3 separate regions of the Homo sapiens genome follow, and all the other regions are linked to region 3. Evidence: fine-mapped expression QTL. A gene starts in region 3. Each other region holds a variant in brackets. All regions are shown on one strand. Distances are from middle to middle.

Evidence for each region. PIP is the estimated chance that this variant, and not a neighbour inherited with it, causes the effect. A credible set is the group of variants that fine-mapping cannot tell apart.
Region 1: its variant is the best candidate, but not a certain one, in a credible set for the expression of ARHGAP31 in T cells (TOPMed, PIP 0.66).
Region 2: its variant is the best candidate, but not a certain one, in a credible set for the expression of ARHGAP31 in whole blood (INTERVAL, PIP 0.76).

What each region holds. Positions count from the first base shown.
Region 1 is chr3:119,407,676-119,411,917 of GRCh38, reverse strand. ARHGAP31 (Rho GTPase activating protein 31) reads right to left here. Exons shown (of 12, transcript NM_020754.4): 11 at 2,142-2,422. It overlaps LOC124906273 (a long non-coding RNA gene), which reads left to right and starts at 2,391. Exons shown (of 2, transcript XR_007096027.1): 1 at 2,391-4,242. The variant A/G (reference allele first, on the strand shown) is at 2,131.
Region 2 is chr3:119,393,997-119,398,238 of GRCh38, reverse strand. The region is part of intron 8 of ARHGAP31 (Rho GTPase activating protein 31); the gene reads right to left. It overlaps LOC124906273 (a long non-coding RNA gene), which reads left to right. Exons shown (of 2, transcript XR_007096027.1): 2 at 1-1,366. Among named protein-coding and RNA genes, the nearest start is that of TMEM39A, 67 kb to the left of the region's middle. The variant C/T (reference allele first, on the strand shown) is at 2,571.
Region 3 is chr3:119,292,694-119,296,935 of GRCh38, reverse strand. ARHGAP31 (Rho GTPase activating protein 31) reads right to left here and starts at 2,553. Exons shown (of 12, transcript NM_020754.4): 1 at 1,932-2,553. The coding sequence starts at 2,031. RefSeq lists a silencer at 2,121-2,240 and an enhancer at 3,081-3,130.

The DNA.
Region 1 (4,242 bases), 110 kb before region 3:
CCCAATGGACTGTGAGCTTCTTGAGGTCAGGATTGTGTTTATTCATCTTTGATTCAACAAGGCCAAAAGGTGCCTGGTATACTGTGAATGGGGGCTCAATAAAGGGTCTGCTGAACTGTAATGGATTCAGTGTTTTCTTTTGGATTATTTCTTTCACATATCTCTGTGGGATTACTTTATCAAAATTAATCTGCTTCTACCACACTGCATTTATTTGTGAACATTTCTATTTTGCCTACTAGACTGTGCCCTCCTTCGGAGCGGGGACAGCTTCATCTCTTTACTCTCCTCAGCACCTACATTAACTGGGATATTACTAAGAAATCAATACTGAGAAACCATAAATTTAGATGAACAAATGAACATCTAAACTCCCTTCCACTTCACTCTGCCCTCTCAGTAAGTGGACCCACAGTGCATCTCTTTGCTCAAACCAGAAACCTATGAGGTGCCTTTGACGTTTCCTTCTTTCTCAGCCCTTATCTAATCCTTCAACAAGTCCTGTCCATTCTACCTTCTAAATAGTGATTGTAGCCCTTCATTTCTATCCCCATGGCCCCACACTAGTCTACACCTCCAGCTTTTCTCTCCTGGCTTACCACATACTCCCCTCCTGATGCATTCGTGCCTCCTTTCTTCAAGCCATTCTCCACACAGAATAGAATGACCCATTAAAGACAAAATTCTGAACACCTCATATGCTTTCCCATTGCCCTTAGGTTAAACCCCAAATCCCTTCCAAGAAGTCCTGGCTCCTGCATCCCCCTGAGTCTCACTTTCTCCAGCCCAGCTATCCCAGCCTTGCTCCCATTCCTTGAATGGGAATGCTCTTTTCTACCTTGGATTCATGGCACATCTTATTCTTTCTGCCTGGAGGTCTCTCCTTTCCTAGTCCACCCACTGCCCCTTTCTTCCATCTAAGTTATCTGCCTGAATATGCACTCTACAGAGAAGCTTTCCCCGACCCTTGTGGCATGCCTCCTCCCTCTGACTAGGTTGGGTCCTCTTGCTATGTGCTCCCATGCACTCCATGCTTCCATAGCACCCCAGGAATTACTTGTTCAATCTTTTCCCAACTAGGCTGTTAGCTCCAAGAAGGCAGGGATGGTTAAAGCCTTGTTCACTACAGTGATGCCAGTGCCTGGCACAAAGTTCATGTTAAATACATGTTTTGAATGAATGAATGAACTGATGCCTTTACTTGTTCCCTTGAATCCACCCGGTTCTCTTTCCAGCACTAACTTTACCTGCTTCTCAAAGCAATGCCATTCATTCCTACAGGGTCCTCCCTGTAATAATTCAATCAATCCCCATATGAATCTCTTCATCTTTCCCCTTCAACAAATGCCAATATATCTTATAGAGACCCTAGCTCAGCCATCCTGAGGCCTCCATGGCACTCCACTCTGCCCTAACTCCCAGCACATGGTTCTTTTGTGCACGTCCTGAAAATCAAGACTCTGGAAGCAAGTTCAAAGGCATCCTCCTTTCTGGTGCCCTCCTCTGGTCACAGAGCTGCCTCTCAAATGCAGGACTCCTCCTTGGGTATCCCTGGAAAACCTCCTCACACTTTCTATTGAAGGACATCCCATAAAAACCTTCTTGGAAAATTCCACCTCTAAAAAGTAGACAAGGTTTAGTCAGCTCCAGCATTGTATTTTAACTTCTCCAGAGCCCACGGAAGGAAAGAATGGATCCTGGAAATATTTATTGTTTTGGAAATAAGTGTAGACAACTGCCCATCCAGGATGTCCAGAAGAAGAAGGCTGGACTCTGTGACTGATCATGATATTTGGGACTGGGGTATGACAAGCAGGTCTTGTGCTGCTTCTGGGATTGAATGTCATTACATTCCAAAGACATGTTACTGGCTTATGGTGACCTCAGGTCAGGAATATTTAGAGTTGAGTCTGTATTAGGGAATCTGAACAGGATGTTTCCTCCCCATCACTGCAGGACTTCTGAAAAGTCCACTGCAAAACAAATCTCAGACCTTCATTACAAGTTTGTCTCTTAAAGTCCCTTTGGCAGAAACTGATTTTTCAAAAAAAAATTTTTTTTCAATTTACTTTAAATTGTACCAAGAGCCCTTGGGAAAAAATAACTCCACCTGGCTGGAGCAGGTGGAGA[A/G]TGCACTTTACCATCTCATGGAGAAGCACAGCTTCGGCTCTGGCCCTGGGGCTCTCCTGCAGGGTGCTGGACTCCATCTCACCAGCCTCTCGTCCCTCCTCCACCACCTTCTCCGGATTTGGCCTCTTCTCTAATTCATTTAAATGTTGAGAGCTCAAGGAGCTTTCTGGGGTTTTCTTCTCCTCCAGGTGGGCGCCTGGCTCCTGGGACAGGCCTTTGCTGCATTCCACTGTCCCCGGTGCTTCAGGTACTGCCTTGGCATCCTCAAGACCTGCCTTCTTAGGTACAGAAGCTGCAGTGAAAATGAGAGTTATCAGTTAAAGGAGACTTCATTTCAAGAGAGACTCTTCCCAACACAGTCACTGTCCTGTCTCCTGGCCCTGTTTCAGAAGGATGGAGGGAATTCCCTCAGCTCACCGCCCCTTGCATTTACTCTTTTATCCTAGCAATGTCCTGGCCTGAGTTCCCAGAGTTACAGATTGTCAAAGAAGGAAGGGACCTCAAAGATCACCTAGTCCGGTGGTTCTCAACCAGGGACCATCTTGCTCCTACCGTTTTCTTCTTCCAGTGGACATTTGGCAATGTCTGGAGACATTTTTTTGGTTGCCACAACATTGGGGAGGGGTGAATGCTACTGGCATGTAGTGGTTAGAAGCCATGGATGCTGCTAAATATCCTCCACTGCACAGAACCTGCCCCACAACAAAGACTTATCCAGTCTAAAATGTCAGTAGTGCTGAAGTTGAGACACCGTGCTCTAGCCCAGTCTCTGACTTCTCAAATAACTAGTCAGACTTCGAGAAGTCTATCTAGGTGCCCAAGGTTACAAAAATCTATTATTCACATCTTGCTTCTTATAATTATGATTAACAGCTTCCTGTGTGACTCTTCCCAGGGGTTATCTCCTGTCAATTTGGATCTATCCAAAGTGATTAAGTTCTGTTCTTAAACATCTACGAGATCAGGAAGAAGCAGGCAGATCTCAAGTTTGGCCTCTATTGCTTTGCATGAAGGAAAGCCCCATTTCTTTGCATAAAGCTGTTTCCACACTCTGGATTAAAGACTGAGTGAGTACCCAGGACTGTGCTCGGCACATAGCAGGCCCTTAAGAAAAATTACCATTTACAGTGGTATTAAAGAAACCTGGGTTCAAATGCTAATTTCTCAATGAATCTTGTAATCTTGGTACAAAGGCATCATAAGACTTGCTTTTCAGGGCTGATGTGAGGATAAAGTAGACAATGGAGACAAAGCATATAGCAGTGTCTGGCACACAGCACAAGCTCAGAAAAGTTTGTTGGTTAAGATTGGTTAAGACCAAACCACTCATTGCCATTGTTTACACTGGTGTCTTCACTCTGAGGTGTCTCACCGCAAGGCCAGCCCAGCAACTCAGATCTAGTGACAGCATTCTGATGTCTGAACTAAAATGCTTCAGAATTCACAATAGTGGTATTTCCTTTTGCCCATCACTTTGCAGGCTTATTTCCTGAAATTCAGTTTTATCTTTGAATATGTAAAATATTTACAGAGTTCAAAAGTTAAAACTACAGGTCATTCCTTGGTATCCATGGGGCGACTGGTTCCAGGACCTCCCCCCAATACCAAAATCCATGTGTGCTCAAGTCCCTGATATAAAATGGCATACATAGTATTTGCATATAACCTATGCACATCTTTTTGTTTTCTAGGTTGCTTATATAATATGTAATATTATCTCTAGGTTGCTTATCTCTAGGTTGCTTATCTCTAGGTTGCTTGTAATATGTAATACACTGTAAATGCCATGCAAATAGCTGTTATACTGTATTGTTTAAGAAATAATGGCAAGAATAAAATCTGTACATGTTTAGTACAGATGCAATTTTTTATTCTGGAGAATTTTGATCTGTGATTGGTTCAATCCATGGATGTGGAACCTTTGACTGTCGAGGGCCCACTGTATATAAAAAGGCCCCTTCTTGCTGGCCCAGCCACATGTCTGCTACTCTACCAGTCCCCCTGCCAGGCCTTGCACTCTTCTGCTCTGGTCCTCCCTGTGGTTGGTTGCAATCTAACCCATTCTTCAAGACAAACCTAACAACACCTCTTTCAAGGCTTCCCAGACCAACC
Region 2 (4,242 bases), 100 kb before region 3:
TGGAGTGTGGTAGAGTGATCATAAGCTCACTACAGCCTCAACCTCCTGGGTTCAAGCAATCTTCCTGCCCTAGCTTCTGGAGTAGCTAGGACTATAGGCACACACCAACAAACCTGGCTAATTTAAAAAAATTTTTTAGAAACAGGGTCTCACTGTGTTGCCCAGGCTGGTCTCAAACTCCTAGACTCAAGCAATCCTTCTGCCTTGGCCTCCCAAAGTGACAGCTAAACTAAACTCCAGTTTTATCATGTGTAAAATGAGAAAAAATAGAGTTGTTGTGAGGATTAAATGGGTAATGGCTATAAGGTAATTATATTGTACTAATCTGCAATAGAGTAAGTACCCATTAAAAAGTAATAATTATTGATTGTTGTTGCTGCTATTCAGGATGGATCAGGGCTCAGCAACAAAAGGGAAGACAGGAGAAGGTTCTATGAGAAGCAGTTAGAGTTGGCTTTAACCAAAATTGAGCTGTAACTCAAGCTTGTTTTTGTCTCTTGTTTAAAGTTCCCCTGTTCTTCCTCCTTGATCCAAACCTGCTCCTTCTGGGAGGTTCTGAATTAGCCCCTTGGTCTCCCAGCTTGAGGCTTCTCTCTTTCTGGGGCCCACTGTGGGACGCCCAGCCACCTCCATGCAAATCCTTTGCAAAGGCAGAGATTGCCTTTCACCTCCTCACTTCCAATGTGCCCCAGAATTCTTATCCTTTGAAGATCTGCTATTTCCACAAATCTATAAATTGATTTACTGCCCTGAAACTACCTGGTCAGCATCCCTTTGTTTGTGTATTCTAGGACATGCACTGCCTTTGTTTTCCAGGAGCTGTATTTCTGGAATTTCTCTGGTTTCCACATGTCAACCTTGATAGGCAGTGACCAGGCGCCCCTGACTGTGTCACAGAGGCCGGGTAGCAGCTCTGTCTGTAGGTCCATCGGTGTCCACCTTTGGTGTTGAAGCCTCTTTCTCATGATGCAGTTCCTTGTGGCCTTGCGGAGCACAGCAGCACATCAGAGATGTGGCTTGGTGGACAGTCCCCAAGCATTCCCTGCCCTCCTTTCTGGAGATTAACTAAGAGCTCAGGCTCCTGTGGCCTATGACTATATTTATATTACATGTTTCTGTCTGGGACCTTGGCCTGGCCTCACAGAGGTGTACTCCCCAGTTTTCTGGCAGCCTTTGTGTCCTTGAGTCCTCCTCTCTTAGCTGCGTTACTCAGAGGTGAGCCTGGACCTGCTATAGCTGTATGGCTTTGAGATTTCTCTGCTCACAGTTCATTTTGGAGGGTTCTCTGAACTCTTCTTTCTCTTTAATAATGTACAAAAAACTTAAATGGAATCAATTAAAATACACATATCTGGAAGGCTCTAAAGTTTGTGCATCTTAATTCAGTTCTCCATTTTTTCCTATACTTTATTTCTTACCTGTTTCATTTTCTAGATATGGTTAAACACCCCCTCACCAACTCCTCCCCACCCAAAACAATCCCAATACTATTCATAGTGAATTAATTTTTTAAATGTCTTTATTTATGGAATTTTAAAGCATATATTTACATATGTTAATCCACTGGTTCCCCTTTTCACATGCATATTTCAACAGCAAGCTCACGTGCCACTTACAGAGACCACACTGGTGGATTACATTTGTTACAGGGTTCAATGGCCTAACTTTAATCACAGATTCCACTAAAGTTATGACCATAAAGCCTATTGGTCTTTATTTTCCAGAGTTGCCAGCAATATTCTTCTGGTAAAAAGAAACCACTTCAGGCAATAGTTAAGGCCACAGGGAGCCACTTATATTGACACTGACAGTTCTTGAATTTCACCGCTGCATCCAGTTAGTGAAGATCTGATTAGTTTGTTCATAAGATCATAAGCCAGTGACTTTCAACACTGACTGCATATCAGAATCACCTGGGGAGCTTTTAGAAAATTACCAATACTCAGACCTCACCACAGAACTTCTGAGGCAAAATTGCTATGGTGTGATCCACTCTGTGGGCGATTCTGAGGTCCAGGTGTGAGAAGCCCTGGCCTGTGAGTTTACCAACATTTGATCCAGTGCCTGGGAATTGTTCTTTTTGAAAACCACATGGGGGTGGAAATCTTCCTAAGATCAAAGCAAACCACTTATTTCCTTTTTGTTGTTTTGTTTTGTTATTTTTTGACTTTTCATTACTGGTGAACCTCTTTCATGGCTGTACCACTGATTCTGCAACTGAAATTCTCTCTTTGACGTGCTTAAGCAAATCTCTTTTCATAGATTAGGAGTTTCTGGTCAGGTACTCTTCTCCCCAGTTTCTCCCTTAAGAATCCTATTTTCTGATTTGCATCTGTCTTGCCATACTTGTGGCAACCTGTCCTCTTCATTCAGGCTATCTTTCCATTTTGTGTAAGCTGAGTTTTGCCATACGATGATTACAGATGCAGACCCAGAATCCATTTCCCTTCTGCCCTTCGCACATAGCTCTTGTACTTCTTGGGTGTAAGTCCCATTCCTCATGCAAGGGGTTGGCTCAGGATCCCAGGCTGAAGCCAATCAGCACAAGGCACACCATTGACAACAGGGAC[C/T]GAACCATGTGGCTCAGTGAAGGATACCGAGACAAGGGGAATTTTGATGAGGCCTTCTGGAAAAGAAGGGTCCCTGCTCTTAGGAGCAAGCTACCAGAAATGTTCTTTCTCCCTCTGGACCTAGTGGGATAGTCAGAGGGAAAGCCTAGAACTACTACAGCCACTTTGCCACAGCAAAGGAAGCCAGTCTGGGGATGAAGCTGACCCAAAGGGGGACACAGCTGGGACAGCTGGGGAAAACATGGAGAAATCATGACAGAGCCCCTGTATTAAACCCCCTGAAGCCTTCCCTCTATCAGGGTGTTCAACTGCAGAAGCCAGTAAATTCCCTCACTGCATAAGTTGATTGAATTGATTTGCCATTATTTACAGCCTAAATCGTTGTAACTGCTGTACTGTGACACCCCTCCTTACTCTAACAGGCAAACACGAAGGTTTCTAACATCTGGACTTCCTGATCCTTGGCATGTGATTATCACCGGGTTTGAGGAAAGTCGTTAAAAATATTATCTCACATATTTCCTATAGGAATTAATTTTCCCCCAAATCTCTATTAAAAATTTCAAACATTTAGAAACCTACCACCCTTAAACTTACCACCTTAGTTTTGATAATTATTGACATTTTGCCATATATTTGCATTATCTATTTCTATATTGATATTTATCTACCTACCTATAATTTGCTAGTTATTTTAAAGTGTCAATATTTTGCTGCTTCATCCTTGAATACTTTAGTTTTAGTATATGTCTCCTAAGAACCATTAGCATACTATGAAAATTTATAATTCCTTAATATCATTTAATATCTTCTATATCCACATTTTCCCTCTTTGTTCCCCAAATTGTCTTTTGTTGTTTTTTCTTATTTTTGTTTTTTAGAGATGTGGTTTTGCTATGTTCCTCAGGCTGGTCTCGAACTCCTGGGCTCAAGTGATCTGCCCACCTCAGCTTCCCAAAGTGTTGGGATTACAGGCACGAACCACTGTGCTCGGTCAGCTCTTTTTTTTGTTTTTTTGGTTTTTTTTCCAGGATCCAGTCAAAGTTTGCTCACTGCATTTGTACATTTCTCTTTTACACCTTGGTTTCATAACTATTGCCTCCATTTTTATCATACTTTCAATCTATAACACTAAAGATCATTATGAAAAATTTCCTTGGTCTTCTCTTTCCTGACATAATATTCAGCTGCATTGGTTAAATTCCCCACTATATATGGTTCCCTCAGTTCCTTCCTGTATCAATTTCTATGCACTACTCAGAAATAAGTCCCATGGGGTAGCATCCTTCTTTAAAAATCACGACCCTGGGGGAGAAGGGACAGGTCTTTTCAGCAGAATTCCAATTAATAGAAAATCATCATTTAGCAAATGCCATAGGAATAATTGTTACATCCAAGAACCATCAGAGGATCCTAAAATTCATGACAAAGAGCACTTTAACCAAGGGATCACAGTTCTCTTCACACGCAATAAGATATTGACATCATGTACCTCCTAATATAACACACTGAGTCTGGCACAGGATCACTTCTGTAGGATTTCTGCAAAAATTCCTAACCTCAGTTTAACCATGAGAAAACACTGGACAAACTCTCCCTGAGGTATATTCTACTAAACAAATGGCCAGTACTCTTCCAAGTTATCACGGTCAAAAAGATGGAGGAATTGTCC
Region 3 (4,242 bases):
ACAGAAGCCAGGGAGGGCAGAGGAACCTAACAGGCCAGGGAGGGCCCTCCGATCCTTCATGATTAGCTGTACAACCTCAGGCAGGCCAATTTACCCCTCTGGGCTTCTTTTCCCCCTCCCCAGGGTGGGGAACCCGGGGTACTGGTTTGCCATTCTTTTAAGCAGTAGTCTCTGTTTTTTTTTGTCTAAATGAAACATATGCAGAAGCCCAAAATATAAAGCAGGTGAAAGAACAGCTGCCTAAAGCTGCCTTTGACATATCTTCATAGAACCCTGGGGTTCTGGCTCATCCTATAATCTATTAGTTTGTAAGAACGAACAGGGCTGGCAAGCACCCCTATGCAACTCTCACAGATTTGAGGGAGGGGCCAGAATAACACCCGCATGGTGAAAGGTGGCATCCCAGGAGCATTCCTAGTGTACCTGGAGGTTAACTTGAAGGCCCCTGCAAAAATAGGTGAAGAGGAACCTTTCATTGTAAACTTCTGACGATAGTGGTTAAGAGGCATACTTGGAGTTTTCTCACACTCAAAAAAACTCAAACCAAGTGATTTTTATCTCAAATCTACCTCTCCAGATGGTTGGTGAGGATTCAATGAAGTGTTAAGTTATGCATCAATTTCAAAAGAGTCAGTTTTGAAACCTGTGGTTCTCCAAGCTCTAAAATCCTAAGCTATTTGTCCTAATGACACAGCAGACTGAACTCTAGAATACCACAGGAATATCACACCACTGCAAATTACTAGGTGGTGCTGAGTCTCCCAAAACACAGAAGTGAAACAAAAGCATTGCACTGTTTTTGAAATGCATATTCGATATGGACTAATCAAATAGGTTTTGAGATTATTTTCCTGGAGGCAGAATTATTCCGCACGGTTACACAGCCCTTAGTTTTCCCCTTTGTTGTATCTATCTATGTATAAACACATGGCCTATATAGTAGGCTATTTTCCTCTCGCTGAAGCTTCTGAAGACAAGGCCTTTTTGTCAAGGGTAAGTGCAAAACCAGTCAACCTTACAAAAGGAGTCATTTAATGCTCAATTTTCCAACTTTCCTATGATTAAACACTTCTAAGCTCAAACGCTGTTATTGTAATCTAGATGGTGTTTTCTTTCCCCCTTCCCCAACAAATGTTTAAATTGTCTCCGCTGGATTCCCCCATCCCCAACTCCCCCCTACCCCCATCTGACCTTGAAAACAGAGAAGTTTTCCTTTTCTCTACTTACCCTAAACTATTTAAAAATGGAGGCCCTCTGACCTTTTTACAACACTCTTCTTGTCTGACACACCAAATGTTAATCTGAAAGCCAAGAGGAGGGAAAAGGTCTTGCAGGGCGGGGAGGGGGTTGTGGAAAGGGGGTGGAGGTACTATATATTTGGCATCAGCTCAGAAATTCAGAAATGTTTGTGCAACCACTCCCCCAGCCAGGATCCTCCCCCACCCCCCACCCGCAACTGCCTTCTAACACATTAATAAAAAAAGATGTGAGCAGACGAAATTGGAGAGCCCAGGAGGGACAGCTAAGGCGGTCATGATTTTGTACCCAGGCAAGACCACTGATCACCATCCCACATGTCCACCCCTCCTCCCTCCCTTCCAACGTGCCAAGTTTAGGATTGGGACCTCTGCAGCTTCCACCCCCATCCCCTGAGGTGGCCCGGTAAACTTGCGGCAGTACCACCCATTAACAGCTTGTGTGAGGCAAACGGAAGGACTGACACAGCAGCCTCTGCGCGTCGGGACAGCAGCGCTGTGCACCTTAAGAATCGTTTATGTTCTTTAAAAAAAAAAAAGAAAAAAAAGTGCAATGAGCGCACAGGCCTGGAATACATTAACTTGTGAACCGACTCTATCACAACTCGAGAGAGTCCGTCTCTCCCTCAAACAAAAAGAAGGTGGGGGCGGGGGAGAAAGGCCAAGGCACATTACCATCCTGTCCCGAGCTTTCCAGATACTCCGTCAGGTCACAGCCAAACGCGCTGGCGGCTCCCTTTCGTTTCAGCTTCTGCTTAGCACCCTTGTTCTTCATGAGTTAGTCCCAAAGAGGCTGCCCCTCCGTCTCTGCCGCCCCTCTGCTTGGCACCGCTGTAAGATGGGCTCCCGGGCTAGATCACCGGCTGCCCCGCGGCTCTGGGGGGCCGCATCGGAAGATGGAAGAACTTGGGCTGGGGGCCCTGCGCATGGACCCCGCGGGCCGCGGGCCGGCAGAGCCTGAGATCCACCCCGCGCCGCTCCGGGGCCGCCGTGCCGAGGCCGTGCAGACTGGCAGCCGCGGGCCGGCTCGCCTGGGAGTGTCACTTCCTCACTTGGAGTCCTAGGGACTTTCACAGGCTCCTGCGGTGTCTTCGGGTGTTTCTCCTCAGCTTAAGAGGGAGGGCAAGCTCTCCCCACCCCTTACTAAGTGCCCCGGAGACGACGCGGACGCGGGGCGAGGAGACTGCCCAGGGGGCTGCGGTGGGTCCTGCGCCCTGGGCCCGCTGTCTCGCCTTCAGACGACTTTGGTAGAGCGAAAAACAAGCATCCTGTCGCTGCTGCCCGCCCTCACGCCTTCCTTTTTTTCCTGTCTTACAAATCCTAGGATCATCCAGCTCAGGAAATGCTGGAAGGAAGTTAGCTAGGGAGGGGGGCGGTGGGTGGAAATTTTTGGCAGCTCGGTGCTTGTGAGTGTGTGGAGCTAGAGGAAGTAGGTGGGTGGGTTGAGGAGCACGGGGTTGGGGTAGAGAACGCGTTCTCCCGAGAGCAGTTCTGCGACTCCAGAGATAACTGGGCAGCCCCGGAGGAAATCGCGCTCTTCTCGCAGGACCCGCAGCCGCAGCCGCCGCTTCCTGCCCCGCCGAGCCGGCTCTTTGAAGTGGCGGGAGGAGGTGCGCTGGCATTCTGCGGGGACCGTGCTGGTTGGGACTTTCAGAACCCTCTGCCCTGGTTTTATCCTCATTGTCATCGTATCTTTGACACTTTCTATTTCGGTGCCCGCCTGTCTGCTACGCAAATACTTAAAGAGTAATGACAGAGACAAACAGGGGACTCCAGCGGAGAAACCTGACAGGCAGTGGCTTCACGCCGGCCACTCCCATCCCAACCTCCTCTGCAGCGTTCGTGCACCCCCACCTCAGCTCACTCCCCTCCCACTCTGGGGTAAAGATACCCCTGGGCAAAGAGAGGCTGCAGCTTTGTAACCACTGCCCAGGAAATCAGATTTCTGGTTACATATTCAAGACACACACACACACTACTGCAAAGTTTTCTAAATGGAAGTGATTTGGGGGGGACAAACCAGGATTTAAGATGCCTCTGACACATGAAATGTGAAGAAAGCAGTCTCCCAGGTTCTTTCATAATTTGTTTCAAGTTGTTTCAAGAGGGCATGTTTTTTTCTTCTCCAGTTAGATTTTAAATTCTTTAACTTCTGTGTACTCAGCACACAGAAAGCACTCAAATTCTTGTGATTTAACCATTTGAGGATTAGATGAAACTTCCTGTATAAATTCAAATCCATATACAGGCTTGAAGGATAGGGGCATATGTCATACAGCTCAGATTGCTGGCAAAGCTGCATCCGTAGCATTTTAGGTACTGAATCCCTTTACAGTCACTGTCTCTCTATGTAACCTTAACAGTCTATGAACTTTGACCCTTGACATTTTCTCTATGTCAGAGGTCACAACTTGATAGCCACCCTGCCAGATCTGGCCCATAGATGTACTTGGCTGGCAGACACCATGCTTTAACACGTTTTAAAATTAGTAGCTAGCATTAAAAAGTTAAGAGATTTCACATAAAATCTGAATTTCTGGCTTCTCTTGAAAAAATGGAAGATCTAGTTACACCACAAGTGCATTCCCATATGGCAAGGACGGCTGATGCTGAGTTGTGGCAGGCCCCTTGGAGGCACCCTCTTTAGAGAGACGACTCTTGCAGTTTTGCAGACCCCACGGCCTGTCTTCCCCCTTTTGCACCTGCCTGGCCTCTGCTGCCACTTGAGTTTGCAGCCCAACCTCTATGAATTGTCTTTCCTGTTTTTCATTTTCCATCTCTCAGTGACACTGAGAAGCATTTGCCCCAGTCATCTTGGTGAAATGTCTTCAAGTAACCACAGACTCATTTGTCTCCTTCCTCTCCCACCTGCAAGGTAGTCCCGCCCAGACGATGAGCTCTTCACCATGCCTCTCAGCTTGGTTTATTCCTTTCCAGGCCCACTCAGTGAGGACCATCCACTCCTCAATTATTAAAGTAACTCCTA